Homo sapiens: one gene and its partners. The protein of the gene in region 1 interacts with the protein of each later gene in a pairwise test. Each region holds a gene or a part of one and is shown on either strand. Other genes may lie near its edges. The genes, in order: TBC1D22B, CCDC57, CEP63 and MID2.

Region 1 (7,549 bases):
GTATATTCATTTATAGTATAGATGGTTTTGTGCAACCATCACCACTAATTTCAGAACATTTTCATCATCCTGAAAAGAAACTACATACCTGTTTACAGTCACTCCCCATCCACCCCACTCCAGACCCTGGTAACTACTAACCTACTTTCTGTTTCTGTGGATTTACCACTTTTGGACATTTTATATATATGGAGTAATATGATCTGAGGCCTTTTGTGAGTGGCTTCTTTTATTAAGCACAGTGATTTCAGGCTTGTCCACGCTGTAGTATGTATCAGTACTTCATTCCATTTTATGGCTGAATAATATTCCATAGTATACATACACCACATTTTGTTCATTCATCAGTTGATGGATATTTGAATTGTTTTCACTTTTGGGCTATTGTACGTAATGCTTTTATGAACATTTATGCAGAGGTTTTTGTTTGGATATATATTTTCTATTCTTCTGCTGATAAATAGGAGTGGAATTGCTGGGTCATGTAGTAACTTGGTGGAACTAAGCATCTTTTAAGTTCTCTCAGTTATTCACATGAGCCCCATTTACTTAGCACATCAAATGGTCATTGTATTAATGCCTAGAAGATAAGAGGCAATCTCTACCATTGCAGGCTTTGGCAGGTGTGGTGGCCTGTAATCCCAGAATTTTGGAAGGCTGAGGCAGGTGGATCGCTTGAGGCCAGGAGTCCGAGACCAGCCTGGCCAACGTGGTGAAACCCCCCATCTCTACTAAAAATACAAATTAGCTGGGCTTGGTGGTGTGTGCCTGTAGTCCCAGCTACTCAGGAGGCTGATGCCCAAGAATCTCTTGAACCTGGGAGACGGAGGTTGCAGTGAACTGAGATTGCGTCACTCCACTCCAGCCTGGGCAACAGAGCAAGAGATTGTCTCCAAAAAAAAAAAAAAAAAAAAATGCAGGCTCTGAAATCTGACTGCCTAGGTTAAAATCCCAGCTCTGCTTTCTAGCTATGTGATCTTATGGGATTTAATTAACCTCTCAATGCATCAGTCTCCCCATCTCTAAAATAGGGACAGAGTATCTGCTCCATGGGGCTGTTATGAGGATTAAATGAGATAATACATAATAATTGGTTAGGAGGTACACAATAATATTAGCTATTATAAGAAGGATAGTTACGATGATAGTAGCTATCATTTTTGTTTTCTCTCCTTGCTTCAGTTTTTGAAACTGAAATTGAAAAGCTTTGATCTGGTTGGGTGTGGTGGCTCACACCTGTAATCCCAGCACTTTGGGAGGCTGAGACAGGTGGATCATTTGAGGTCAGGAGTTCGAGACCAGCCTGGCCAACATGGTGAATCTCCGTCTCTACTAAAAACACACAAAAAAATTATCTGGGCTTGGTGGCACAAACCTATGGGGGAAAAATAAAAAAGCTTTGGTCAGTGTGTGTGTGTGTGTGTGTGTGTGTGTGTGTGTGTGTGTGTGTGTGTGTGTCTAGAGCTCGGGCACAGGAGAAAAAAAAAATCACCTTTTTTTTTTTTTTTTTGAGATGGGGTCTCCCTCTGTTGCCCAGGCTGGAGTGCAGTGGCACGATCTCAGCTCACTGCAGCCTCTACCTCCCAGGATTAAACGAGTCTCCTGCCTCAGCCTCCTGAGTAGCTGGGATTACAGGCACATGCCACCATGCCCAGCTAATTTTTGTATTTTTAGTAGAGAAGGGGGTTTCGCCATGTTGGCCAGGCTGGTCTTGAACTCTTGACCTCAAGTGATCTCTTGACCTCAAGCCCACCTCAGCCTCCCAAAGTTCTGAGATTATAGGTGTGAGCCACCGTGCCCAGCCCTGGCTAATTTTTGTATTTTTTGTAGAGACAGGTCTTGCCATGTTGCCCAGGCTGGTCATGAACTCCTGGGCTCAAGCAGTCTGCCCACTTCATCCTCCAAAAGTGTTGGGATTACAGGCATGAGCCTCTGCGTCTGGCCAAAATCGAAATTACCTGAGTCTTCCAGGCCCTTCGTTGTTAGAAAGAGAGGCCAAGTTAAGAACTTGAAGCCGATCCTAAAATAATAATGAATCTGATAGGAGACTTAGTGTAAAAGTCACAGCCTGTCTGGGCAGGTACATTACAACTTGTTCTTGGCTTGGAGATGTTTTACTGGTAGAGTGAGTGACTAGAAGATACTAAATTATCATCGAAACAGCATAGATCACCTGTTCTGGAAGACTAATGTGGAGTGAGTGTGTGAACCTACATCAGTTGCCAACACGTTTGGCATTTAAATTTGATGGGTCTTTTTCCCATATTTGCACTAGCTCTTTTATCAGTGCTAAACAAACACCTGTTGATTTTTCCTACCAAGATGTTTGCACTGTTTCAACTAGGCAAAACAGCTATGTCAATACATTCTATGGTGTTGGTTTTATTAAAGAGAGTGACGGAGATTAATCAGAACTTTTGTTCCATTTTGTCTGCGTGGCAGCATATTCCATGGCATTCTTTTCTCTGCATATGTGGTGTGATTTCTTCGAGATGCAGTGTGTTAACTAACCTCTGGTTTTTAGGTCTAGCTTAAGTGGAGGCCTAGGTTTTGTAGAGATCTAATCTTCACTTACTAAATATTGTTAAGTGCCTGCTGGTATGTGTCATGCTCTGCCAGGTGGCAAGGGGGCTACAGAAAAAGATATGGCACCACTATGGCTTTCTAGGAGCTAAAAAATCTGCTTGGCATCATGGCTTCCCCTGGAGAAGATGCTGTGTATGATTGACTTTCTGGTTTTTCCACTAAACATATGTTATATTTGTAATCAGACAAACTTAAAAGTGGAATTGGGTGAAAACACATTGTTGAATGCAAAGAGCAAGATGTAGAAAGATATGTGCAATGTGCAGTCTTTTATGTGAAGTTTAAAAACATAAAAAATACTGTGTGTTGTTTATGGATCTGTGAATATATGTAGAGGAATAAAAACAGATGGGAGGAGTTCCCTCCAATTTCAGAATAATTGTTATCTCTTGGGAAGTGAAGAAACAGGACTAGGGACTGCAATTAGGGCATCAGTAGTCTAACACTTTGTTTTTGTTTTGTTTTGTTTTGTTTTTTTGACATGGAGTCTTACTCTGTTGCCAGGCTGGAGTGCAGTGGCCCGATCTCCGCTCACTGCAACTTCCGCCTCCCGGGTTCAAGCGATTCTCCTGCCTTGGCCTCCCGAGTAGCTGGGACTACAGATGCGTGCCACCACACCCAGCTAATTTTCTTGTATTTTCAGTAGAGATGGGGTTTCACCATTTTGGCCAGGATAGTCTTGATCTCCTGACCTCATGACCCACCCACCTTGGCCTCCCAAAGTGCTGGGATTACAGGCGTGAGCCACTATGACCGGCCTAACACTTTTTTTCTTAAATGAAATGTGACAAATGTTAACATTTGTAAATCAGAGTGATGGGTTTGTGGATGTTTATTATATCATTTTCTGTACTTTTCTTTGTGTTTGAAAATGTCAATTAAATGCTTTTTCACTTGTGTTAGAGCAAATGTTTTGTATTTTTTTTTTTTAACTTGTGTTGGAGAGATCAGCCAGTTAGCCATGGAATTAAGTAAAATTTAAAGTAACATGATTTAGAGTCAAAATAAGTCATATTTACAGTGTGATGTTATTTATATAAAGTTTAAAAAACATGCAAAATCATACATTATTTAGGGATACATACATAGAAAATAAAAATATAAAAATGAGTGTGAAAAATGCCAGATCCAATAGAGTGGCTTGCTAGGAAGGGAGGGAGGGGTATGCCAGGGTGTTTTGTTTTGTTTGGTTTTGTTTTGTTTTTGACACGGGGTTTCACTCTTGTTGCCCTGGCTGGAGTGCAATGGCACGATCTCGGCTCACCGCAACCTCTGCCTCCCAGACTCAAGCAATTCTTGTGCCTCAGCGTCCTGAGTAGCTGGGATTACAGATGTGTGCCACCAAGCCCAGCTAATTTTTATTTTTAGTAGAGATGGGGTTTTGCTGTGTTGGCCAGGCCAGTCTCGAACTGCTGGACTCAAGTGATCTGCCTGCCTCGGCCTCTCAAAGTGCAGGGATTACAGTGCCCAGCCCTGATTGTGTCTTATATTATGATCTAAATCTAGTTTATTTTTAAAAAGTAATATAAGCCCTAATTTATGTATGTTAGGGAACTAGAGAAGACATGAGTTAGTAGATGCTGGGGGTAGGGGTATGGAAAGTTTCATGAGGGGTGTAGAATTTGAAGAGAATGTTGCAGGATGGATACAATTTTGAAAAGGGATGTAGAAAATAGAAAAGCATTCCAAGTAGGGAAAAGAGCCTTATTTAATAATGGGTTTAATAAGTTTGGAAGGTGGAGTGGAGATCAGTCTTTCTTAGAGCTGAGTTTGGGTTTGGAAGGAGTAGGTATGGTACAGACAGTGAAAGGTGAATTATAAATGTCAGGAAATTGAGCACCTTAATCATTGGGCTCTTCTGGTCTATCTCCATTTAGTCTCTGTGATCATCTCGGTTTCTCTTTTCTAAATTCTTGCCTGTCTTTTTTAAGCTGCAATAAGCTGATTTATTATACAAAGTGTTCCAGTTTTAGATACATCATGGTTCAGTTCAAGAATATGTTAACAAATTCAATTTGGGCCCTGATACCTTTGCTGATGAAGTCCATCATTTATCTTAGCCTTCCTGGCTATGCCAGCACCTTGGGCTGACAGCTTTAAAAAATAGTCTACTGTGATTTTAAGATTCCTTTCCTAGATGGTAATTGATGGCCTCTGGCCCTTCAGCCTGCACAAATTAGGTTTGCTTTTCTTCTGCATGGGTTACTGGCAGATGGTAATACTTCTTTAAGGTAATACTCTCTTATTTTTCTACCCAGTCACCTTACCTAACCGGCCTGTTGAGATCTTCCTGCAGTTTATCCTCTGATTTTATATTTTATTGTGAGGAGGGCTTGTGGGCTTGAAGAATTCAGGTGTACTCTTAGATTATTTGCAGCTGCTAATGTGCATATCAGTAGCCCTTTGGGTTTTTTTTTTTTTCCCGTGGTCAGTGGGGGTGTCTAACACCCCCTTCCTCTCTCAGCAGAACTTTCCCTTTACTCTTTGATTCCTCTTTTTTTCTCTCTGCCTAGGAAACCCTTTAAACACATCAATTAGTATTGTTTTCAAAGTTTGTATTTCTGTAGTAATATATGTAATAGTTTGCTTACACATTACTTATTAATCTTCCAGAGAGGTTTAGGGAGTAAAGATTCTTATAGCTAAAGAAGTAGGGACTGTATTCATAAATTAAAGATTATATGTAAGATTTCCTCTGAAATCTTAATAGGAATCAATGTGAAAGTGATTGATTTGGCTATATTTTTATTTAAGAGCATCCTTTAGGATCACCTCTGTTATGTGAAACAAGTATTTGGTAAGCTTGTTTCAATTTCTAAATGTTGAGTATGGATTAAATTATAAAAATGGGAGGGAGGAAGAAAATCAACATTTCTTGGGCACTGAGTGTTTGCTGGGTAGTGTTCTAACATTTGCAAATCTACGTCACTTCCTGCTTAACATTAAATTAGCATTACCACCCACCAGGAATTGTGCTAAAGGGCTTTCAACATATCGTCCCACTTAAACCTTCTAACCTTCTCAAGATCGCTTATTTCTTATAAAGGTGATACTTGTACATGATACTAAATCAGAAAGGGTTTGCAGTGAAAACTAAGTCTCTTTGGTGTCCCATCATCTTCCAGTCATCTGGTTCCTATTCCAAACTGCTGCTACCAGTGTCTTTTGTATTCTTTCAGATACTCTGATATTCTTTCAGATACATAGACCTAATCATACATAAAATGCATGTATCTATTTTAAAGATTTTTATAAAAATGGTGTCATACATGTAGTTCTGCATCTTTTTTCAATTAATGTCTGAGTTTATTTCATGTCAGTGAATATAGAACTGCCTCATTCTTTTTTTTTTTTTGAGACGGAGTCTTGCTCTGTCCCCCAAGCTGGAGTGCAGTGGTACAATCTCGGCCCACTGCAACCTCCGCCTCCCCAGCTCAAGCCATTCTCCCGCCTCAGCCTCCTGAGTAGTTGGGATTACAGGTGCCTGCCACCATGCCCGGCTAATTTTTGTATTTTTTAGTAGAGATGGGGTTTCACCATGTTGGCCAGGCTGGTCTTGAACTCCTGAGCTTAGGTGATCTGCCTGCTTTGGCCTCCCCAAGTGCTGGGATTACAGGCGTGAGCCACCGCACCTGGCCAGAACTGCCTCATTCTTTTTAAAAGATATACTGTAATTTATTTAACTACTTTCCTGTTGGTAATTATCCTTTCTATTTTAATAGGTAAGTTAGCTCCTTTATATTTATTGGAATAACTGATATATTTAGTTATTTAGTTTAAGTTCAATTTTTAATATTTTCTTCGTCTTTTTTTTTTTTTTTTTTTTTTTTGAGATAAGGACTTACTCTGTTGCCCAGGCTATAGTGCAGTGACACGATGATAGGTCACTGTAGTCTCAAACTCCTGGGTTCAAGTAATCCTCTCACCTCAGCCTCCCAAGTAGCTAGAAGTACAAGCATGCACCACCACAGTTGGCTAATTTTTAAATTTTTTGTAGGTACAAGGTCTTGCTACGTTGCTCAGGCTGGTCAAACTTCTAGCCTCAAGCAGTTCTCACACCTCAGCATCCCAAAGTCCTGGGATTACAGATGTGAGCTACCATGCTTGCCCTTTTAAAAATATTTTCTTCTTAAAAAAGTCTTTCACTATGTGGACTGTGCTTGCTTTTGAGGGGAGGACATACATATATATATATATATACACACACACATATATAATATATATATACACACATATATAATATATATACACACATATATAATATATATATACACACATATATAATATATATATACACATATAATATATATACACACATATATAATATATATATACACATATATATAATATATATACACTATATATAATATATATACACTATATATATAATATATATATACACTATATATATAATATATATATACACATATATATATACACACACACATATATATATTCTGATAATTTGGAAGATTTATCTTTTTATTTTAGTGATTGTGTTTATAAGTGTAACTTTATACCATATTTCTTCAGACAGTACCTGTTGGCTCCCTACCATGAGTAATGATGAAATTAGTAAGTATATTTCCTCACCCCTCTCTTCCCACCTGCTTCTAGTTGATTATATTATTTTTCTTGGTTTTATTTTCTGTCGTAAAACATCCATATTCGTCTATTAACATTTGCAAATCTACATTAGGATTTAATGTTAAACAGGTAGTGACATAGATTTGCAAATTGAGCTATCTGCTTTAAATATCTTCTGAGCCCTGTCAGTAAAAGATGAAGAAGTCAATGCACTTCATTTGTCCATTTTTTCCTCCTTTTAACATTTGCCAATTATATTACTTTGATGTTCTCTTTGCCTCAAATGTAAGACCTAGTCATAAGGTTGGATCTGTTCAGGGCTCTCCACCAATCCTTTTGCCATGGTTTCTCCATCTCATGATTAGTTGAAGTTTGT
Region 2 (7,549 bases), on another chromosome or scaffold:
CTATACACATGCAAATCTATTTCAGTATATCTGTGTCTCTGTATATATTAAAAACTGGCTGGGTACAGTGGCTCACGCCTGTAGTCCCACCACTTTGGGAAGCTGAGGGGGGAAAATCGCTTGAGGTGAGGAGTTGGAAACCAGCCTGGCCAACAAAGTGAGACACCCATCTCTATAAAAAATTACAAAATAAATTAGCCAGCCATGGTGGCGTGTGTCTGAGTCCCAGCTACTCTGGAGGCTGAGGTAGGAGGACCATCTGAGCTCAGGAGTTTGAGGCTGCAGTGAGCTATAATCATGCCACTGCACTGCAGCTCGGGTGACAGAGTGAGATCCCATCTCAACAAACAACAAACACCAAAAAAACCTGTGAGTTTATTACAAGTTACGCACTTGTAATCAAGTTAGGTTCACCTGTTTCTACTTCATTTTGAGTCCTTACTGATTTTAAGTTTTTTTGTTTTTTGTTGTGCTTTGTTTTTGGCACATGAAACATGTATACGTGGTTCTAAAAGTCCGCAAAGTCTAAACTCAACTACAAGACTTCGACTTCAACTTCTATTTCTCACTTACTCACTTTTTTTTGGCAAATGCACGTTCAAAGAAAACAGCCCTTCATGTTCCTTCGTGGTAGTGGTGCCCCTCTTCTCCAGCAAGTGCCACTGACAGAATTCAGACCTACTGCCCATCTCTCTTATTTCAGTTTTAGAAATGGCTGTGGCTACTCTTCGGCAGTCAGTGGAGGAAGTGAAAAAAAACACGGGGTCACAGGTACATAATTTTTGTCCCCTGGACCTATTTAAAGAGTAGATGAGAGGCTGGGTGCAGTGGTTCACACCTATAAGTACGTGGGAAGATCGCTTGAGCTGTAGCTTTTAGATGGGCATTCGAGGCTGCAGTGAGCTGTGATTGTGCCACTGCACTCCATCCTGGGTGACAGACTGAGACTCTGTTTCAAAACAAAAGAGTAGATTACTGAATTTGGCCTCCCAGAGGGCTTAGCAGCACTCTCTGGAATCCAAGAGGGGCCACAAGAGCTAAATTCAGTACATTTAAAGGTGAGAGGATCATTTGAGGCCAGGAGTTCAAGACCAGGCTGGACAATATAGTGGAACCCCATCTCTACAAGAAATTTAAAAAAAAAATTAACTGGGCATGGTGGTGCCTGCCTGTAGTCCCAGCTACTCAGGATGCTGAGATTGAGTCCTCTGTCCTGAGTACAAAGTGAATGAGCCACCCCAGACCTGCCTTCCAGTCCCAGGAAGTGTCTTATAAGTTAAGGGTATTAGGCCAGGCACGGTGGCTCACGCCTGTAATCCCAGCACTTCGGGAGGCCGAGGCGGGTGAATCACGAGGTCAGGAGTTCAAGACCAGCCTGGCCAAGATGGTGAAACCCCATCTCTACTAAAAGTACAAAAATTAGCCGGGCATGGTGGCGGGCGCCTGTAATCCCAGCTACTTGGGAGGCTGAGGCAGGAAAATAGCTTGAACCCAGGAGGTAGAGGTTGCAGTGAGCCAAGATCGCGCCACTGCATTCCAGCCTGGGCAAGAAAACAAGACTGTCTAAAATAATAATAATAAGTTAAGGGTATTAAATATATTTATACATGGAGGTCATAAAAATATATATATTTGGGCTGGGCGCAGTGGCTCACACCTGCGCCCGGCCCTTTGGGAGGCCGAGGCAGGTGGATCACCTGAGTTTGGGAGTTCCAGACCAGCCTGACCAACATGGAGAAACCCCTTCTCTGTGTATTTTTAGTAGATTTTATTTTATGTGTATTTTATTCACAGGTATTTCTGGAAAACTCAAACTGTTTTTCCTCTACTCTGATACCACAAGAATCATCAGCACAGAGGAAGACTTCTGTGATCAAATGTGGTGGGAGAGGGAGGTTTTCACCAGCACATGAGCAGTCAGTTCTGCCGCAGACTCGGCGGGTGTCCTTCGGTTCAGTTCCAACACCGCCTGCCTGGAGAGAGGTCAGACCACAGGGTGAGGGCTCAGTCCCCAAGACATAAACACCCAAGACATAAACACCCAACAGGTCCACCCCGCCTGCTGCCCAGGCAGAGCCGATTCACCAAGACGGGAATTAGGATAGAGAAAGAGTAAGTCACACAGAGCCGGCTGTGCGGGAGAACGGAGTTCTATTATGACTCAAATCAGTCTCCCCAAGCATTCGGGGATCAGAGTTTTTAAGGATAACTTAGTGTGTAGGGGGCCAGTGAGTTGGAGATGAAAGCGTAGGGAGTCGAAGGTGTCCTTTTGCGCCGAGTCAGTTCCTGGGTGGGGGCCACAAGATCGGATGAGCCAGTTTATCAATCCGGGGGTGCCAGCTGATCCATGGAGTGCAGGGTCTGCAAAATATCTCAAGCACTGATTGATCTTAGGTTTTACAATAGTGATGTTACCCCAGGAACAATTTGGGGAAGGTCAGAATCTTGTAGCCTGTAGCTGCATGACTCCTAAACCATAATTTCTTTTTTGTTTTTTTTTTTTTATTTTTGAGACAGGGTCTCACTCTGTCACCTAGGCTGGAGTGCAGTGGTGCAATCACAGCTCACTGCAGCCTCAACGTCGTAAGCTCAAGCGATCCTCCCACCTCAGCCTGCCTGGTAGCTGAGACTACAAGCGACGCCCCAGTTAATTTTTGTATTTTTGGTAGAGGCAGCGTTTTGCCGTGTGGCCCTGGCTGGTCTCGAACTCCTGGGCTCAAGTGATCCAGCCTCAGCCTCCCAAAGTGCTGGGACAACCGGGGCCAGTCACTGCACCTGGCCCTAAACCATAATTTCTAATCTTTTGGCTAATTTGTTAGTCCTACAAAGGCAGTCTAGTCCCCAGGCAAAAAGGGGGTTTGTTTCGGGAAAGGGCTGTTACTGTCTTTGTTTCAAACTATAAACTAAGTTCCTCCTAAACTTAGTTCGGCCTACACCCAGGAATGAACAAGGAGAGCTTGGAGGTTAGAAGCACGATGGAATTGGTTAGGTCAGATCTCTTTCACTGTCTGAGTTATAATTTTGCAATGGTGGTTCAAAGACTGCCCGCTTCTGACACCAGTCGCGAGTCCTGGCCTCCGGAACTTCTGACTGACCACTGGCTTCAAGTTGGGGTTCCCACAGCCCCCTCTTTGGGTTCGATTGATTTGCTGGGGTGACTCACAGAACCCAGGGAAACACATACGTGTAACAGTTTATTATAAAGGGTATTACAGAGGATACAGATGAGGAGATGCGTAAGGGGAGATATGGGGGAAGAGGCTTCCTGGAGGACCCCCCCACACCCCACCCACCACTCCCCAGGAACCTCTCCACACCCTGTCCTCTTGGGTGTTTAGGGAGGCTTCCTGAAGTCAGCATTCCTTCCCCCAGGGTAGAGGGTGGGAGCTCTGGGGAGGATCTTATGACCTACAATGGAAAGTCAGGTGAGAGTGGAGACCTGGAAGGATTCTGTTTCCTGAGGCCTGACACGCCCAACATTGCAACAAAAGACTGTGACGTGTGAGAGTTATGAGCCAGGAACTGTGCAAGAAAACCATGATGTGTCATTGTACCACAACAGGTAAACCTACAACATCACCGTTAGCTCAGCTCAGTATTTTTAAAATGAGAAAATCAAAGTGATGGGATGCCCACCCATGCTGTTCCAGCCCCTGCTGGGAGCTGGCTGGTTCAGGGAGCCCCACTGGTTCTCCTGAAAGAGGGTGAACGCACAGCGAGGCCTTCCCTCCCCGGCGGCTTCTCCTGCCGCTCCCCAACCCGGAAGCTTCATGGTCCTTCTTGAAACCAGGTGCTTGCTGGGGACGCCTGCTGGCCGACAGGCAGATTGCGTCCAGATGCTGAGTCCGTGCTTTTGAAAGCCAATTAATCTCAGCCTTGGGGCTTTGGGGATCATCCCGAGATGGGATTTGTACAGAAACAGAGCAGGCCGTTCTATGATGAGGTCAGAAGGAAAGGCGAGCCGAGCCCGGCTGACTTACAGGCCCTTGGTGTGTGGGGCTTCTTATGGGTCCTGAGTGTGATGGATAAAGCGCTGGAGATGCTGGGCTCTCACCGGGTGCTGCACCGAGTCACTTGCTGTATGGATTTTTCAGGCTGCTCTTCTGTGCAGAGCACAGAGGCCTGGGAGCACCCATCTCACATAGAGGGGGTGGTACGTGCCATCTGCCTGTCCTGGCTGCCTGAAGCTTTTGAAAACAGGGTGACCCGCTGAGTCCTGAGACCTGGTGGGAAGGAACCTCACCCAGTGGGGAGATGGGGGCATGGGGACCTGGAGTAGCACGTGCACAGGAACTGGCAGATAAAGGCTGCTCTGGGCCTGCAGGGAGCAGCTGGAGCCACGCAGGCTGGGCCGTGTCCTCGGTCTGTCTTCATACGCTGTGCCAAGGAGATCGGACTTTATTTTGAAAATGGTCAGGAGTCGCGGGCACATTTGAGGCCAGATAAGATTGCATGATCAGATTCTCAGAACGGCAACCCCCATGGGTGGCTGCGACCAATGAGTTAAGGAGGCAAGCCCAGTGGCAGGGCAGCTGGTACAGGACGGGGGCCACAGCAGTCCCTCAGAGAAGAGGCCCGTAGACCTCGCAGACCTCAGGCTCTGCAGAGAACCGTTGTCATGACTCACGGGCACTGTGTGAAGGGTTCTGAGTCATCAGAGATCACAGTGGTGTTCCATCATTTAATGTGTATTTGCTGATAGTCCAATTCTTTCCCTGTGTGTGCACAGGTGTGTGCACAGGTGTGTGCATGTCCTCTGTGTACAAAATGTTTCAGTCGCCAAGACTGTGCCAGACAGTGGGACTCACTACACCCGACACTGGGGTGATGGCGTTGTGCCAACGTGAGATGGAAGTTAGGAAAGCTTCCCTGCAGTGATGTTCAGGTTGAGGTCCCACTGGCAGGAGGAGCCTGCCCTGCGGTTAGGAGGAACCTTGCAGACAGAGCGGCACCTGCCACACATCCCAGGCTCTGAGGGCACGTGGCAGCGACAGGCAGGAGCCTGGGGTCCAGATGTCCTCAGTGGAATGGGAAGCCTGGTTAAGCCTTTTTTTTTTCTTGAGATGGAGTCTCTCTTTGTTGCCCAGGCCGGACTGCAGTGGTGCGATCTCAGCTCACTGCAAGCTTCGCCTCCGGGGTTCACGCCATTCTCCTGCCTCAGCCTCCCAAGTAGCTGGGACTACAGGCGCCCACCACCACGCCCAGCTAATTTTTTGTATTTTTAGTAGAGACGGGGTTTCACCGTGTTAGCCAGGATGGTCTCAATCTCCTGACCTTATGATCCGCCCGCCTCGGCCTCCCAAAGTCCTGGGATTACAGGCATGAGCCACTGCGCCCGGCCCTGGTAAAGCATTTTTGAAAAGATTCCTTTGGCAGCCAAAAAAGTGGGAGTGCACAGCAGAGGCCAGTTGAGGTCTCTTGTGGTAAGACACTGTGGTGGCCGAGGTGTGGGCACAAGGTGGGAGACAGCAAGAGGTCAAGGATCATTACACGGGGTGGACGGTGGGGCCGTTGTAGGAGCTGAGGGAGACGAGGAACAGGAGCGTGGGAGAGTGCTGAGATGGTCGGTAGGGACCCTGTTAGCTCCGGCAATGGGTGGGCACGCAGCAGCTTGGAGGAGCCAGGCTGAGGTGGTCCAGGTGGCGTGATGGTCCTAGGGTGCTGGGCGCGGGGGTTGCATCGCAGGAAGCATGTGGGATGGAGGAGACCGTCTTTGCTCCAGAGCCTCGTCAGAGAAGCGCCGTCTCAGGACCCCCAGGGAGCCCTCGTGCCCCCAGCGGGTGTGCCCTGCTGACCAGCCCTTTCTGGAGGGGCCCACGGGTCTTGCAGCCCCTTACCCACCTCCTCCTTGTGCTTCGTCACAGCCGGTGCTCAGCCTGGCTGTGCCCTTGTACCCGCTCCCTCTGGGAGTTGGGACTTTGTACAACCATTGCTGTGCCCCGAGATGCAGAGGTGCCCGGAGATACAGAGGTACCCTAAGACAGGCTGGGGCTTTTTCCTGCTCTGGCAGCAGCACCCCGGCCATGTCCCACCAGGCCGGAAGTTTGTGCTTGTCCCCCAACTGGGTGTGGCCCTTTTAGGCCATGCAGTTCCCCTGTGTGGACACCAGAGAAGAGTTGTGGGGGATTTCTGTGTCCAAATCGAGCTCATACTTGGACCTCTAAAGGGTTGGGGGCAGCTAGGACCAGCCAGAAGAAACTTTATCTTTTAATAGACCACTCACTGCAGCGTGGAACTCCTGAGTTTGAATGACCCACCCACCTCAGCCTCAGAAAATGTTGGGATTGCAGGCGAGAGCTACTGTGCCCAGCTTATTGGTTTTTGTGATTTTTGTTTTTAAATTTTATTTTTTGTAGCACTTTATTTTTATGGTTTTACCAAAATATCAGTCCATGATGAACAAATAAAAGAACAAAAGAATGTACTCTCGGATGGTATATTAGACCATTCTCACATTGCTGGAAAGAAATACCTGACGCTGGGTAATTTATAAAGAAAGATTAATTGGCTCACGGTTCTCCTGGCTGTACAGGAAGCACAGTGTTGGCACCCGCTTCTGGGGAGGCCTCAGGAAACTTTTACTCATGGCGGAAGGTGAAAGAGGAGCAGGCACGAAGCAAGAGGGGAGTGTGAGTGGTGGAGAGATGCCACATCTCACTAGAACTCATTGTCACCACACACTTTGAAATGACCAAATCTCCCCAGAACTCACTGTCACAAAGACGGCACCAAGCCACGAGGGGTCCGCCCACATGATCCAAACACCTCCCACCAGGCCCCAGCTCCCCCGTTGGGGATTACAATTCCACAAAGGTTTGGGCAGGGATAAATATCGAAACCATATCAGGTGGTGAATCTTCCAGGAGCAGGGTGTTGGGTGGGAAGGGGCATTGGTTCTGAGGGACTGACCTGCTGTCAGTCCTCACGTAGCCACTTAGCAGCCTTAGTTTTCTCAGCTGTGAAATGGACAGAGTGCTGCGTTGAAGCTATTTTATAGAACCTAGCTCTTATAGCTGGACAAACCATGTTTCCCATCTTCCCTTCCTCTACTTCCCCTGGATTTCTTTTTTTTAATTTATTTTTTTAATTTTTTGGAGAAAAGAGTCTTAGTGTCGCCCAGGCTGGAGTGCAATGGTGCGATCTCTGCTCACTGCAACCTCCACTTCCTGGGTTCAAGTGATCCTCCTGCCTCAGCCTCCCGAGTAGCTGAGATCACAGGCATGCGCCACCATGCATGGCTAATTTTTATATTTTTAGTAGAGACGGGGTTTCACCATGTTGGCCAGGCCGGTCTCAAACTCCTGACCTCAGGTGACCCACCCACTTTGGCCTCCCAAAGGGCTGGGATTACAGGAGTGAGCCACCATGCCTGGCCTTTTTTTTTTGTTTATTTTGTTTTGAGAGAGAGTCTTGCTCTGTCACCCAGGCTGGTGTGCAACCTCTACCTCCTGGGTTCAAGCGATTCTCCTGCCTCAGCCTCCCGAGTAGCTGGGACTACAGGCACGTGCCACCACAGCAGGCTAATTTTTTGTATTTTTAGTAGAGACGG
Region 3 (7,549 bases), on another chromosome or scaffold:
TACTTGTGGAGGTGAAGGCTTGGCAGAAAATAGGTGTCACTGGTATCAAATCATTGAAAAGTGGGTTAGGATAACTTCCTTACCATGGTTGGTGGAACTCGTTTCTCTGGAGTTGGGTGAATGGTAAAGCAGGCACAAACCTCCTTTTGTTTTCCTGTCTGACGTTACTATTCTGTACTTTATTGTAGAGAAATTATTCCTAAGGTCTTCTAGATTTTTTATGAAGTATTGTTGGTTTCCAGGACTCTCAACACTTTATATTTCTTATTTTCATGAGTTTTTTTGATGAAAAGGGTTGAGTAGGATAATCAGACAGAGAGACACAGTTTCGGCCGGGCGCGATGGCTCACGCCTGTAATCCCAGCACCTTGGGAGGCTGAGACAGGTGGATCACGAGGTCAGGAGTTCAAGACCAGCCTGGCCAAGATGGGGAAACCCTGTCTCTACTAAAAATATAAAAATTCGCCAGGTGTGGTGGCATGCGCCTGTAATCCCAGCTACTTGGGAGACCGAGGCAGACAATTGTTTAAACTTGGGAGGCAGAGGTTGCAGTGAGCCAAGATTGCACCACTGCACTCCAGCCTGGGCGAGAGTGAGACTCCCATCTCAAAAAGAAAAAAAGAAAAAGAGAGAGAGTCTTCATCTAAACCTAGAAATTCTAAAAACTAGCTGTTTGTTCACTATTTTTTGGCAGTGTAAAGAATTCTTAAATAACTAGGTATTTGACTTCCTAAGAAGTGGGGTATCACCATATATATGCATTTGAGAACTTGAATTTACAAATAAATACAGAGATTATTTTCTATTTTTATATCTCAGGGATGTTATTTCAATGCTAATAGTGAAAAATACTACCACCTTTCTGCTTTTAGGTTGGAATGTTGCATCAGCAGGTAGAAGAACATGAAAAAATCAAGCAAGAGATGACCATGGAATATAAGCAGGAGTTGAAGAAACTACATGAAGAAGTGAGATTTTAGTTTTGTTAAATGTTGTGTGTGTAGTTCTCTCTCTTTCACCCTTGAGAACTTTGTTAATGAAAGCCAGTTTCTACTTTGTAAAGTGGGAAATACATACTCCATCAAAGATACAGGAGTGGGAATCCATTTCTCTGTTCTTTAATCCAGGTAAAGAGGTTTGCCTAACTGTAGGTTTGATACTACCTAGAAGAGATGCTAAAATATGTTTCTTGGTTGAGTACCTGAAAGAAATAGAGCTGTTTTTATGTAATACTGTGAAATACTTGATACCAAAAATTACATTTAATATTTTAATTTTTATCAGTTACTAGATTATAAATAATGGAGGATCCAAAGATTTAAGAAACATTTTGGGATAAATAAGACAAGTAAGAAAATTCTGTCCATTAACTCAATTTTATTCTTCAGATTTGGAAAAAACTGCTTTTATTCTGATTTAATTGCAAAGTACTCTTCTCCTGCATCCTGAATATCAGTGCCCTGCAAGAGCATGGCTTGAGAATCACAGACCTAGAGGAAAGAAAAAGAGTTTTTATTTGCTGCTTTATTGTGGGGCTGGGTGGTAGGGTCTTTAAGTGCAGGGCTATTGTAATACAAAACTTTTGTTTAAAATTTTTTTTAAAATTTTTTCTTTGAATATATTTCTTTAGTAGTGTTTGTTTTACATATTTAATTTTTAGTTTCCTTTTGTGTTTTAGTTTGGAAATCTAACATGTTCTCAGTAGTACTGGTTAGCACTGCTCTTGTTTTCATAATACCAATTTGTCTCACCACTACTTCTTACAAATTCTTAAACTTTAAATATAGAAATAACTGTTTCTACAGTTATGCATACTGAAGAGAAGCTATGAAAAGCTTCAGAAAAAGCAAATGAGGGAATTCAGAGGAAATACCAAAAATCACAGGGAAGATCGGTCTGAAATTGAGAGGTTAACTGCAAAAATAGAGGTATGTTCATAGTAATAATTTGTTCATAGTGATTGTCAGCCTTCACGTAGGAAAATGCGGTTTCTAATGGCACTATTTTCTGGAACCAATTTTCTACTATCTTAAGGACTGCCACTAAGCTATTTCAGAGGTGAGAGGGTGATCCACCATACATCCTATCATCATCTAGTTCCCTGGGTTAACGGGGTTACTGGCCATCAGTAATTCTCAACAGGGCAGTACCACCCTTAGGGAGCATTTGCAAATGTACGGAGACATATTTTTTTGGTTGTCAAAATGACTGAGCTTAATAAAACTGGCATTTAGGGGACAGGGACCAGGGATACTAAACATGCCTAAGAGTGTTCCACACAGGAAGGATTATTGTACCTCAAATGCCAGTAACTCTCCAATTGGGAAACATGACCACTAGTTATAGGCAGTCCTCTATGGACATTGTTCTTGTCTTATATATCATTGTATCTCAAGCACCTAATAAAGTGGGGGCTTAGTAAATGTGGAAAGTACATGGCACTTTTCGTACAAAGTAATCTCTGTATCAGATTATTCTCAATTCCCATTTAGATGTAGTAAGGCATTCACTTCCTTCTCTGCTGACTTTGTTTTTATTAAGACTGAATAACTCCATGATTATTGTATATATTGAGAACTTAAGGGGAGCTGGTGAGCTAATAGTACCAAGAGTAGATGAAGGAAGAGCACAAGGCTGTCATTCTCTTCGTCTGTCCTTGCCATTAGTTCTTCACTGGACATAAGAATTCCCAGGGTGCTTTTAGGCTCTCAGAAATGCTGATCCAGCAGTATGGCATAGGACCTAGGGATCTGCATTGTATCCAGCTCCCCTAGCTTATTCTGATTTGAGAAACATTGTTCAACATCTTTGTGTGATCACTTACAAGTTTGTACTCTGGGTGACCTGTCACCCACAAATGCCAGTATATTATTATTACTTAAAATTATAATTTCTGTGTTTAATATTCCTTTATATCTCAATATTTTTTTACATTTGAAGAGCTTAGAATCAGAAGACTGCAGCTACTGCTTCCCTTCCACCCTTTTCGGCAATACCTTTTCCCCCCAAACCCTATATCCTTCTTGCTTCTCATTGCCACTTCCTGACTATTCTCTTTTCTTTCTACCTCAAAAACCCCATCTTTGATTTTCATGTTACCAGCCTATACTGCCAGCCAATGAACATAACAACCAAAATAGTCATCGTCTGACCTCTGGGTTATTTCCTTGGCTCATTGATTTCAGCACCCAGCTCACTGTCAATTCTCTCTGACATTACTCTTATCATAACTTTGAGGATCTTAGGATCTGGAGAGATGATGCTTATAATACTCTGACCTTACAGTTTCTTGGCTTTCTTTCCTCCATAGATAGTTTGATTATCTTTGTGTCTCATCTACTTATTCCCACTGCCATTCCTTAGCTCTTGTCATTACCAATATATGCCACCCCTCTAGAATCTCATTTTCAAGCATTCAATTATCAGACTACCAATCCCTATCTTTTCAGCTAACTCTCTCTAGTCCTTTGACTCTCAGTAATCATTAACCATCCCTTAAAATGATTAAATTCTGCCACCTTTTTACTGCTCCATTATCTACTTGGTGTTCTCACTTATCGGTCCTTAGCCAGCTTTTAAATTCTGTCATTACATTTTTTACTTTCCCCTTCATCTCCTGTGCTCCTCTCTTGCTTCCTCATATTTGCTTGGCAGAATCACAGTTCTGCTTAAGTCCACCTTTCTGCCCACTCTCTACCTGTCATGTATCGCTGAACGTGGCTAGAGAAAAACCTAATCATACTGTCTGTTCTCACTTTAAATTCATGGTCACTAACCTCAAATGGGTCCTAATGCTACCTGGAATCATACTGTATTTCCTCTCATCTCCTACTTTCCACAATGAGTATTTCAGACTTCTGCTTTTCTCCTCAAACTCTCAACACCTTTCCCCACATCCTCACCTTTGGGTTATATCTTCCTTTCTGTTTATAGACTTCCAACTCTTGTGTCCACCCACCTATCTGCATCTGTGCCCATGTACCCTGCCTTCCTTCCTGGAGGAACTACGCATGCCCTCCCCCTTTTCTACCCAAGGCATTACCTTAGCAGTTCACCTTCTCTTTTCTGCACCCTTAATTTTTTTTCTCTACTGGATATTTTTTACCAGCATCCAAATTTCCCTCCTCTTAAATATCCTCTCTTGACCCGTCTCTTCCTCCTCTGCCCCATTTTATTTCTTCCATTTTATAACTAAAAAATTACTTCAGTCATCTATACTTGTCTCCAGTTCCTCTTGTCTCATTGTTCTTGTACCCACTCAATAAGGCTTTTGTCCCCTCACACTGCAGAAGCTGTTCACATAGAGGTCACCAGTGACTTCCACATTCCCAAAGCCTGTGGGCTGGTCCTTATCTTCCTCATCCTACCTACAGCTTTGTAGGAGAGCTGGTCTCTCCCAACTCCTTAACCACTTTCTTGACTTGGCTTGAGAAAAACCACATTTCTCTCATTTTTTCCTTGTTCATCACTCCTCAGTCTCCATTATTCCTTAACCACCTAGGGTCATGTCATTGGACCTTTCCTTTCCTTTTTTTTTTTCCTATCTACGCTCACTCCCCTATTGATCCCATTGAATTTCATAGCTTTAACACTGTGTATATGCTGACAATTCCTAAATTTATATATCTAGCCAAGACCTCGCCTCTTCATGACAGAATAACTTTCAACTGCCTGTTTCCTATCTCCACTATGATGTCTAAAATGTGTCAAACTTAACATGTCCAAGCTAAAGGTCCTGTCTTTCTCTTCCTCATCTCCCCAACACTGATTCATGTTTTAGTTGATAACAACTCAATTTGCTCAACCTAAAACCTCGGAGTCATCCTAGACTTCTCTTTTCTCAGCATGATAGCCAGAATGATTCTGCTGTAATGTAAGTCAAATTATATCACTTCCTATACAAAAACCTTCCAGCAGCTTCTCTTAAAAATCTGTTATCCTAATGGCCTACGTGGTCTCATTCCCAGTTATCTCTCTTACCTTGTCTTCTCCTACTTTCCCTTTCATTCACTTTATTCCAGCCACACCAATTTCCTTTCTCACCCTTAAACACACCAGGATGCTCTTATTTCAAGGCTATTCTTTCCACCCAGAATATTGTAACTTCACCCTCATCTCCCTAGGTGTTTACTTAAATGTTTTTCACTCAGTCTGGCCATCCCTTTTAAAAATTACAACCCCAACTGTGAAGACTTCATGCTCTGTTTTCTCCAAAACGTGTATTACCATCTGCTATACCATACAAGAAATGTGTCATCTGTTGCCCCCAGTTGAGTAGGACTAGGGTTTTTGTTTGTTTTGTTAAGTATTGTATCCCTGACTCCTAAAGCAGTACCTGGCATATATAGTAGAATGATTGAATGAATGAATGAATATCAGAAATTTGGTTAACAACACTTATCTTAAGGAGCCTGAGACTTCTGGAGTTGAGGGTCCTGGAAGACAGTGATAGAAAGATTGAGTTTCCTTTCCCTTTGATTTGCCCCATTTTCATAAATATTGAAATCACTTTCTTGATCATGCAATTTGATGTTACTATTGATCCATCATTAATTTTGAACTGTTTGGCTTTGGGTTACAAATATTTGTTAAAATTTGGTACAGATTTTCTTTGTTATTCAAACTTTTGCAGTTCCTCTGTTGAGATAATACAAATTTGGATATCAAAGGATATTGTGTTATCTGAATCTACTTGGTTCCTTAGTTTTAGATACTGGGAAGTAAGATTTGGGTTACCAAGGGACTTATCTGAAAATTTAATCTGTTCAATTCCTGGGTCTGGATATCAAGAATTTGGATAGCGAGGGATATCTGTAATCATACTTTAAAATTTTAGTTATCTTAGCATCAGTTTTCTGAAAATTCACTAGAAAATTATAACAACCCTTAGGTGGCAGCAAATCAGTGAAAAACATCTGAATCCAGTGCTTAACATCTGCGTGTCATACTCCTCACCATCAGGGTGTTAAATTTAGAAAGACAGATATCCAGAGGCACAGTATGTGAGGAAGTTAGTATTACTCTCCAGCTCTGTTAGCTGAGTGAGTAATGGGGCTCCCGCTGTGGAGAAAGGTGCAAGCGTACCCAGGGACATGGGGAGAAATTAAAGTTAAAGGGAGTCTGGGAAGTAGTGACAGTGAGGAGAAGCACTCAGAAATTAAGTACTCTAATTGCCTCCTCAGGAATTCCGTCAGAAATCGCTGGACTGGGAGAAGCAACGCTTGATTTATCAGCAACAGGTATCTTCACTGGAGGCACAAAGGAAGGCTCTGGCTGAACAATCAGAGATAATTCAGGTAGGCCTAAGACTTTTTAAAATAATGAGAAGCAGATAGGTTTTGATCAAGTTTGAACTACCTTAATGCAGTGTCCTAGTACCATTTAGCCTCTTTCAGCTTCTCTCCACGAACCCTGCTCTCTTGTTTAGGAAGCCTCTCCTCAGCATCTAGACTCAGCTCCTTCTTCCCGCCTGCCCTCACACATGCGTGCATTCACTCTCCTGTCCAGGCTCATGTCCTTGTGCCCGCTTGCTGCTTTGCCTCCTTGCTTGTTTCTGACTTGCTCACCCACTCTCTGTCATTGTCTTGCTTACTCAGGCTCACTCTATGCTTGCATCCATGTTCACTCTCCTCATCTTGGTCCCTAGCTTTGTCGCCCTCTCTTCCTCCCCTCTCTTTCTTCCCTACCACAGTCCCATTCCTCCCTCTGTCTCCTTTTCCATGTCTTTCTGTCTCTTGTTGGGTCTCTCAGCTCTACTATAGTCTGTGCCTTGCTCCATCCCTATGGTCACTGGGGTATCTTGGCCGAAGTGTCTCAGCTAGGGAGCTTCAGTTAGTCTGCCTATGCGGACAGATACGGAGAGAGTCACATGGCAATGGTGTGCACACCAACTAAAAGTGGTGTCTTTGTGGTAACAAAAACACTTATTTTAGAACATTGATAGAAACTTTTCTTGTAATGGCTTAAGCAAAACCAAAAAACAGACACCTACTTTAGGAATATGTCTTGTAAGAACATATTCAGCTCATTCCTTTTTCAGTTAGAATCAAGAACATAAAGGAAACTAAAAAAATTTGTGATCATCTGTTATGTGCTAGACATTGACCCAGTGCTTCTTGTATGTGTTCTCTGTTTAATATTATGATAATCTGTCAAGGTTGGTAGTTATCTTAGTTTTATAGAATGAGGGAACAGCCTGGGTAAGTTGAAATAGCTAGAAGGGAGGGTTTTTTTTTTTTTTTTTTTTGGCTTTTTGGGTTTTTAAAAATAATCTGCATTTATTTGCTATTTTAAGTCTCAATAATGCATTAACTTTTTGTTCGTCTCCCTGAAATATCAGCAGTCTGATAAACTACCGACAGTGGCTGTGGCTCTGCTGTGAGTGACTTCATTCAAAATGGTAGGAAAAGTCCACAACAATTGCAAGGAAGAAATTTATTTTCTAGGCCACAGCAAGCTGTGCAGCCAGACAGACCAGTGAAATCCTGAGATGTCTGGACCAGTTTTTTTGACTTGAATGCCAAAGCACCATAGAGACCTAATAAGAAAT
Region 4 (7,549 bases), on another chromosome or scaffold:
GGTCCAGGAGTCAAGAAGATCAGAGTTCATCCCAAATATGATGATACATTGGCTTATGGCTTTAGGACATTCCTATGACTTTTCTTTCATAGTTGGTGCACTTGTGTAAAAGCTATAATATTGTGTACTGGGTATTGTTAGTCTTGACTTGGTCCTTTGAAGATGAAAGGGTTCTGTAAACCCTCAGCATTATACTTTTTTTTTCCTTTGAGACGAAGTCTCGCTCTGTCACCCAGGCTGGAGTGCAGTGGTGTGATCATGGCTTGCTGCAGTCTTGACCTCTCTGGCTCAAGCAATCCTCCCATCTCAGCTTCCTTAGTAGCTGGGACTATAGGCACACACCATCACACCCGGCTAATTTTTGAATATTTTGTAGAGACAGGATTCACCATGTTTCCCAGTCTGGTCTCAAACTCCTGAGCTTAAGGGATCCACCTGCCAAGTCCAAGTGTTGGGATTACAGGTGTGAGCCACCACACCCAGCCAACATTATACTTTTCAAAGAAAGCACTTCCTTTACCTTTTACTGAGTTAGTGGATTGACTGGGTGTAAGCAGGAATCTTAGCTTACTGAAAACCTTTAGCTTCCCACCCCCAGAGCCAAATCGTATCATTGTACGTAGGTCCTAAATCTGGTTTTTCTCCAATACATGTTCAACTGAATGAAAACATACATGCAACTAGGCATACAGAGTAATAATGATCAATTTAAGTTGAGGCTTGAATCATTTCTAATGCACTCTAACCTAACAATCTGAGTCAGACTAATTTGAAGACATAACCTCACCCATTTTTTAGCCTATATGGGGGCAGTTTGTTAGCTTCTAATGAAAAGTGTCATAAATAATTTGGGGTATGGCTATATAAGCATGATTAGCACCTAGTAGCAGAGTCAACAATATTAAGCACCTATAATGTGCAGAGGACCTCTGCTGATTGGGCTGAGGCCCCAGATTTAGCCCAGTATTTTGGCCTCCTGCTTGTTCCACGCCAAACTCCATACTTGCAACTCCAGGATTAGGTCAGGGAGGGGCTGTGCAGGACATGGGTAGAGGCTAGGGACATGAAAGGGTGGTTGTGTCCCTCTTATTTGTTTTCATGACTACTAGAATTCTCGTCTGGCATGTTGCACCCTGCAAGGCCACCTCTGGGAAGTACTCCTGTAAATCAGAGTGACTTGATTGCTTTATGAACATATCATCTGAATGGTGCAAATTGATTTAGATAAAACTGATTTAGTTAATCCCTTCCCTAAGAGCAGGGAAACTTGCTTCAACTCGCAGATCCTAAAGTGGTGCCAGTGGAGTCTCACAATTGCATCCAAATATTGCTCTGAGTAGTGAGCCTGTCCATTCCTTCATCCCTCCTCCCATAAAATCTGCTGACACCACAATAATTGACAAGGGAACTACACAAGGAGTATGTCTGTCTTCATCATTCAGCAAACCTCATTGGCTTGGTGAAGAGGAGAGAATGTTGTCTTCTCATTCTATCCCATAGAACTCAAGCTCTGTCTTTTCAGACAGGGACACAGAGCCCTTAAAAGGGTGAAGACAGGGCTGTGGGCACAGAATATGTCTCAAATGGCTGCTCTTGGAAATACCTGCTTGGTCTTGTGTGTGTCTGCCATTCAATCTTTATGAATCTTGGTAATATCCTTGCTGTTAGGCCATGGGGCTCGGCTGCTAGTAGAGGCCAGGGGGTGCTCCATTTCCATTTAGCATTAAGTTTTTGTCCTCTCTTTGGCACAAAAGCGAGAATGAAGCTCTGTGTTCATGAAGCACTCCTTACTCATTAAGCTGGGTGTCTTGACTTAGAACATTGCATCATCAAAATATGAGATGTAACATGTTGATACTGGATATACAACAGTTTTGGATAATTCAAAATTGTTTACATTTTGATAAATGAAATTTTGGTACCAAGATGGTGTTGCACTAACATCTGTACTTCAGGTCTCTCAAAAAATATTGTGTTCATCACTAAGCAGTGTACAGAAGAGACTAGAAAAGTGTTTCTCAACTGGTGTGTTGGGTCATGCTAGCAAGTGAGAAGACCAGATGAGTGGTGTTGAGACAAGAAATTCCAGCTGTAATTATCTTCTTGTACAGATAGCTAATCTACTTTTTATTTACCTCCTCAATATATTAAATATGTTCCTTTCTCCACTTTCATGTATTAAAACTCTGCTAAGAGTTTTCTGTGGGCTTAAGTAGTCTGTGGCTGTTTCTATTTGTTTCTCTCTTTCTGTCTTCCCCTTCTTTATGACCATAGGCAGATATAATCCTTTTGATGATGAATCTCCCAGATGCTGAGTTTTCTTTTAGAAATTCTATAAATTACTAAGACTACTAGATAGTATAAGATGCTTAAAGTGTGGGTGGTGGAGGGATTTTGAGTAATGTGCCAGCATCCCATTATTTCCTTTTCCTTGTGGGATTCACCTGAATACACTCTAGGATGCTGGTTCAGCCTAAGTGGGTTGGCAAAGTATCATTTGTAAGCATTATCCTACTTGGGTTCTGGCCTCCCTGCAGAGCTCTGGCTGCCTGACCTTGGGCTTTGTCTCAGCTTCCTTCCCGTAGGTCAGACTCCGCTGGTTGATGAACGGCATCCCCAGTCTCTGGATCATCGTCTTACTGAGACCGAACAATCTGATAACAAACCCATCATACAATCTGAAATCGTCCTGAAACATGAAATCCCAGTATTTGCAATTTGCCTGGATAGGAGCATAATGTATGGGCATGGCAGACAATGCTAATTCATGACAGTGAAGTGTCTTAATATATACAGCACAGAGATAGAAAAATGGTTTACGATCCAGATCCTTGATCACTTTGTGTATAGCCCTTTGTTCAGTGTTGCTAGGATCCATGTGGTTCCCAGGGAAGTAGAAGCTTGATTTCAAATAGGCCTCTGTTCTCTGTCCCTTGTTTCTGACCTGAACTTGGGGTCCTCTCAGCCTAACATTCAATAACATGTCTTACATACATATATTGCCATTTTTATTGTGTAGATGACTGCCTGTCCAGGTGAACCACTGAACATTTAAAAACTTACAAATATTTTGTTGGGTAACAGAGGTTAGGAAAAGCAATCCTAGAGGAGATGGAAAGCTGTACCAGTAGTCATAGGTAAATTAAGTTTGTTTTCCATTTGTTCCTCAACCCTGCAACTGCCAGTGTAATCTGCATTAAGATAAAGGTGTTATGAATTGTATTTAGGATTCCTGTCAATTATCATGTGTTACCTTGGCAAATCCATTTGTTGGTTACTTGGATTAACCTTTTGGGTTTGTAGCAGATTTAGGACTTCTAGTTCTGCTATTTTGATACTCATTTTAATGTTTATATGATGACTATCTTGTATAAAATACTCAATGTTTGGATTTAAAAACTAATTATTGAAAAGAACATACATTAATTCCATGTACTATAAAATATTAAGTAGGCTTTAATAACCTATTAGACAGGAGCTGGCACTGGTGCTCTCTGCCAGTCGGTAATCAGCCTCCAGTTCTGAGTTCTCCCTGTGCAGGATGAAAGTTTAAGAGAAAAGAAAAGAGACAGCCCTTCACTTGGAGAGGGGTGGGGATCCCAGTCTAAAAGTGAAGACATGAGCATAACAAATACCATGATCAGTCCCATGATCTTCCAGAAGTCTTGTGGAGGAGTGTGATTGTCTGCCATTATGTCAACCATGTGTTTGGGATGAATTTCCAAACATTTTTGGCTTTTCTTAATAACTTGCTTTGTTTCTATAATCTATGAATGTATGATGAGAATACCTGTATTTGTAAAGTAAACTAATACTTTTATTTTATCCTCGTCTGATCCTCACAATAGCCCGTGAGATGGGCAGGGCAGGTATTTTTCATCTGATAGATGAAAAAGCTGTGGCCCAAAGAGTTTAAATGTACCTAGGATTGCTCGGCTAATTTGGTTTAGATCCAGGACTACAACCAGGCTGTATTATGAGGGTCAAATGAGATAATGGCTTTGAAATAATTTGAAAAGTATAAATTGATATACAAATGTAAGGTGGCTATTATCAATTATTATTACTGACCACCTAGCCTCTTCTGTCTAGGTTTCTATTTTCAGTTCTTATCCTATAGTGTGTGAATTCGATGCATTGGTTGCCTTTTGTGTTCCAAAATGATCTGCTTTGAGCTTCAAGGGGTTCTTTTCTAATCATGGTGTTCTAGAATTTGGATTTTGGTTTCTTTTACAGCCCCCAAATATATTCTCATTAGTTTATATTCCCATGGGACTCTTCTCCCCTTTAGTTGTCCTCTGGAACATCCATTATGTCTTTTTTGAGATACAACAGACAAAAACCACTGTACTTTGAGCATCTTAGTAATGCATTTTGTTTATGTCCTGCTCCAGTGGCTGTGATGTCTATCACTTGTTAGCCTTCCTAGTCACACTAATAAATAAAAGTTGTGTTTTTAGGAGCTAGTTTACAATAATCCAAGCTGTCTTTTTATGTGGTAACAGATAGCAAGAGCTCTATAATAATCGGATGTCAGAGCTGGAAAGCATCTTAAAGAGATCGTCTGGTGATTCTAGTTTAGCTTGAACATTTTACAGTTGAGGAAACATCAGACTAGGCCAGGACTCATTTGCTCCTTACCCCAAGGCAGGGAGACAGTTTCTAATACTTTAAGGAAGAACTCATGGGACATTAATTTTAATATCCTGAAGAATGTTTATTTTATATATATATATATATATTTTTTTTAAAAACCTACAGCTCAGCTCATTTCTCAATCTACAGCCCAGAGATCAGGCTTGGTTTCACACTCATGGATTTTCTATGAAGGGAATACTATAACTCCTCAGGAAGGTAGTGGGAGCTCAGATACATGCTTTGCAGACCCGGAAGAAAAAAAATTAGATGGAATAATAATTGTTAATTAAGTGGGCATTTAATTATGCTCAAGTAACCTTTGAAATAATAGAATTATGCAAAGTACAGATCACGACTTCTCTCTTGATCAGAGTTAGCTAAAGGCTAGATTTGGAGGACAATGCTGAAATCAGTCTTTTATTTCATAAGTGTAGGATGCATTATTTTTACGTTTTTGAAATTTATTTTTTATTTTTATTTATTTTGAGACAAAGTCTCATGCTGTCACCCAGGATGGAATACAGTGGCACAATTACGGCTTACTGCAGCTTCGACCTGCTGGACTCAAGCGATTTTCCCACCTCAGCCTCTCAAGTAGCTGGGACTACAGGTGCATGCCACCACACCCCACTAATTTTTGTATATTTTGTAGATATGGGGTCTTGCCATGTTGCCCTGGCTGGTCTCGAATTCCTAGGCTCAAGCAATCTGCCTGCCTCTGCCTCCCAAAGTGCTGGGACTACAGGTGTGAGTCACCACGCCAGACCCATTATTTTTTATCTTAATCACCTTCATCAAAACTCCTTTTGTATTTCTACCCAGTTATACAGCCCAATGGTACCTTCTTCTAGTTTATGCTCATCGACTTCTTTTTTCAGAGGTCTCACCCTGTAGTAAGGCACAAGGTAAAGAAAAGCCATACAGAAACAAACATACATATCTGACTATATATGGCAGTAACTAAATGGTTTGGAAGGGAACTAATCAGGGTGTGTGGATGTGGACATTTGTTTCTTAATATGGCAATTGATCGTGCCCTCTCAGGTATTTCATCAATGCGTTTTTATGACAAATTGTAAAAACTTTCAAGATTACCTGTCATTGAGTTGCACCCTATCAGATTCACATCCTGTCTTCATCCTTAGCATACTCTCTAACTCTGTATAGATTAGTGATTCACAAACTTTTTGAAATTGCAACAGTTTGCCATTGTTTAATTTTTGTCATGCCACTTCCTCCTGCTAAAAGTATTTCATGATAATAGGAGTCAAATATTTTTCAGGAGTCACTTATATACTTTTTAAAGTGAATAAAAATTGGGAGCTGAGAATTTTGTAACACTCATTGATCACTAGAGATATCCCAGGGTATTGCAAAACCTAGACAGGGAATCATTGACCTAGAAAAACAATTGAAAGGAACAAGCAATCCAATAGAATTTATAAATACTATATAATCACACAGTTGTTAGTATAGTATAGTGATTTGCTGTTTACACCCTGGAGTCAGACAGACCTGGGATTGAATCTCTTCTTTAAAAAAATTAGATGTAATTCACATGCCATAATATTCACTATTTTAAAGTATACAATTCAGTGGTTTTTGGTATCTTCACAAAGTTGTGCAATCATCGTCACTATCTAATTTTAGAACCTTTTCATCATCCCAGAAAGTAACTCCATATTTGTTAGCAATCACTCCTCATCCCCCATCCTCCCCTGCCCTGCTCCTGGCAACCATTAATCTACTTTCTGTTCCTTTGGGTTTGCCTATTCTGGATATTTCATAAAAAAGGAATCATACACAAAAGGAGCCTTTTGTGACTGGCTTCTTTTACTTACTGTTTTCAAAGATCATCCATGTTGAAGTATGTATCAGAACTTCATTCCTTTTTATAGCCAAGTAATATTCCACTGTGTCTATCCTTTCATCAGTTGATGGACATTTGGGCTTTTCCCTTTTGGCTACTATGAAGACTGCTGCTATGAACATTTGTGTACAAGTTTTTGAGTGAACACATTTTCCATTCTTTTGGGTATATACCTAGGAGTGGAATTATATGGTAACTCTACATTTAGCCTTTTGAGGAACTGTCGAACTATTTCCCAAAAGCAGCTGCACCATTTTTTATTTCTACCTGCAATGTATGAGGGTTCTAACTTCTCCAAATCCTGGCTGACGTGCTGTTTTCCGGTTTTTGTTTGTTTTGTTTTATTATATTTTAGCCTTCTTAGTGTGAAGTAGTATCTCAATGTGGTTTTGATTTGCATTTTCCTACTGGCTAATTATGTTGAGCACCTTTTCATGTGATTATTGGCCATTTGTATATCTTTGGAAAAAATCTATTGAAATCCTTTGCCTACTATTAAATTGAGTTACTCATCTTTTTTAATCTTGAGTTGTAAGAGTACATTTCTAGAGACTAGACCTATATCAGATATAATAATATGATTTGCAAATATTTGCGCCTAGTCTGTGGGTTGTCTTTTTACTTCATTGATGGTGCTTTTTGCAGCACTCAAATTTTAAATTTTGATAAAGTACCATTTATGTATATTTTCTTTGGTTGCTTATGCTTTTGGTGTCATCTGAGAAACTGTTGCCTGCCTAACCTAAGTTCACAAAGATTTATGCCTATCTTTCCTTCCAAGAGTTTTATAGTTTCAGCTCTTACATTTAGATCATTGATCTGTTGTGAGTTAATTTTTATAAATGATATGAAGTAGAACTCCAACTTCATCCTCTTGCATGTGGATATCCAGTTGTCCAAGCACCATTTGTTGAAAAGAGTATTCTTTCTCCATCGAATGGTCTTGGAACCCTTGTTGAAAATCAGTTGACCATAGATATATATAGGTTTATTTCTAAAGTTTTATCCTAAGTTTGATTCTTAGTTTTGCCACTTAGAAAC

The links.
Region 2: the proteins of TBC1D22B (region 1) and CCDC57 interact in binary tests that used the Homo sapiens proteins (3 or more experiments, as listed by UniProt).
Region 3: the proteins of TBC1D22B (region 1) and CEP63 interact in binary tests that used the Homo sapiens proteins (3 or more experiments, as listed by UniProt).
Region 4: the proteins of TBC1D22B (region 1) and MID2 interact in binary tests that used the Homo sapiens proteins (3 or more experiments, as listed by UniProt).

The regions. Positions count from the first base shown.
Region 1 is NC_000006.12:37,260,539-37,268,087, forward strand, and holds part of TBC1D22B (TBC1 domain family member 22B), read left to right. Parts: intron 1-7,549. UniProt on the Homo sapiens protein: May act as a GTPase-activating protein for Rab family protein(s).
Region 2 is NC_000017.11:82,202,294-82,209,842, reverse strand, and holds part of CCDC57 (coiled-coil domain-containing protein 57), read left to right. Parts: intron 1-703; exon of another isoform or gene 704-711; coding exon of another isoform or gene 712-771; intron 772-1,794; coding exon of another isoform or gene 1,795-1,996; exon of another isoform or gene 1,997-3,510; coding exon of another isoform or gene 3,511-3,562; intron 3,563-7,549. UniProt on the Homo sapiens protein: Pleiotropic regulator of centriole duplication, mitosis, and ciliogenesis. Critical interface between centrosome and microtubule-mediated cellular processes. Centriole duplication protein required for recruitment of CEP63, CEP152, and PLK4 to the centrosome.
Region 3 is NC_000003.12:134,530,973-134,538,521, forward strand, and holds part of CEP63 (centrosomal protein of 63 kDa), read left to right. Parts: intron 1-872; coding exon 873-968; intron 969-1,787; exon of another isoform or gene 1,788-1,805; coding exon 1,806-1,928; intron 1,929-6,182; coding exon 6,183-6,296; intron 6,297-7,549. UniProt on the Homo sapiens protein: Required for normal spindle assembly.
Region 4 is NC_000023.11:107,828,689-107,836,237, forward strand, and holds part of MID2 (probable E3 ubiquitin-protein ligase MID2), read left to right. Parts: intron 1-7,549. UniProt on the Homo sapiens protein: E3 ubiquitin ligase that plays a role in microtubule stabilization. Mediates the 'Lys-48'-linked polyubiquitination of LRRK2 to drive its localization to microtubules and its proteasomal degradation in neurons.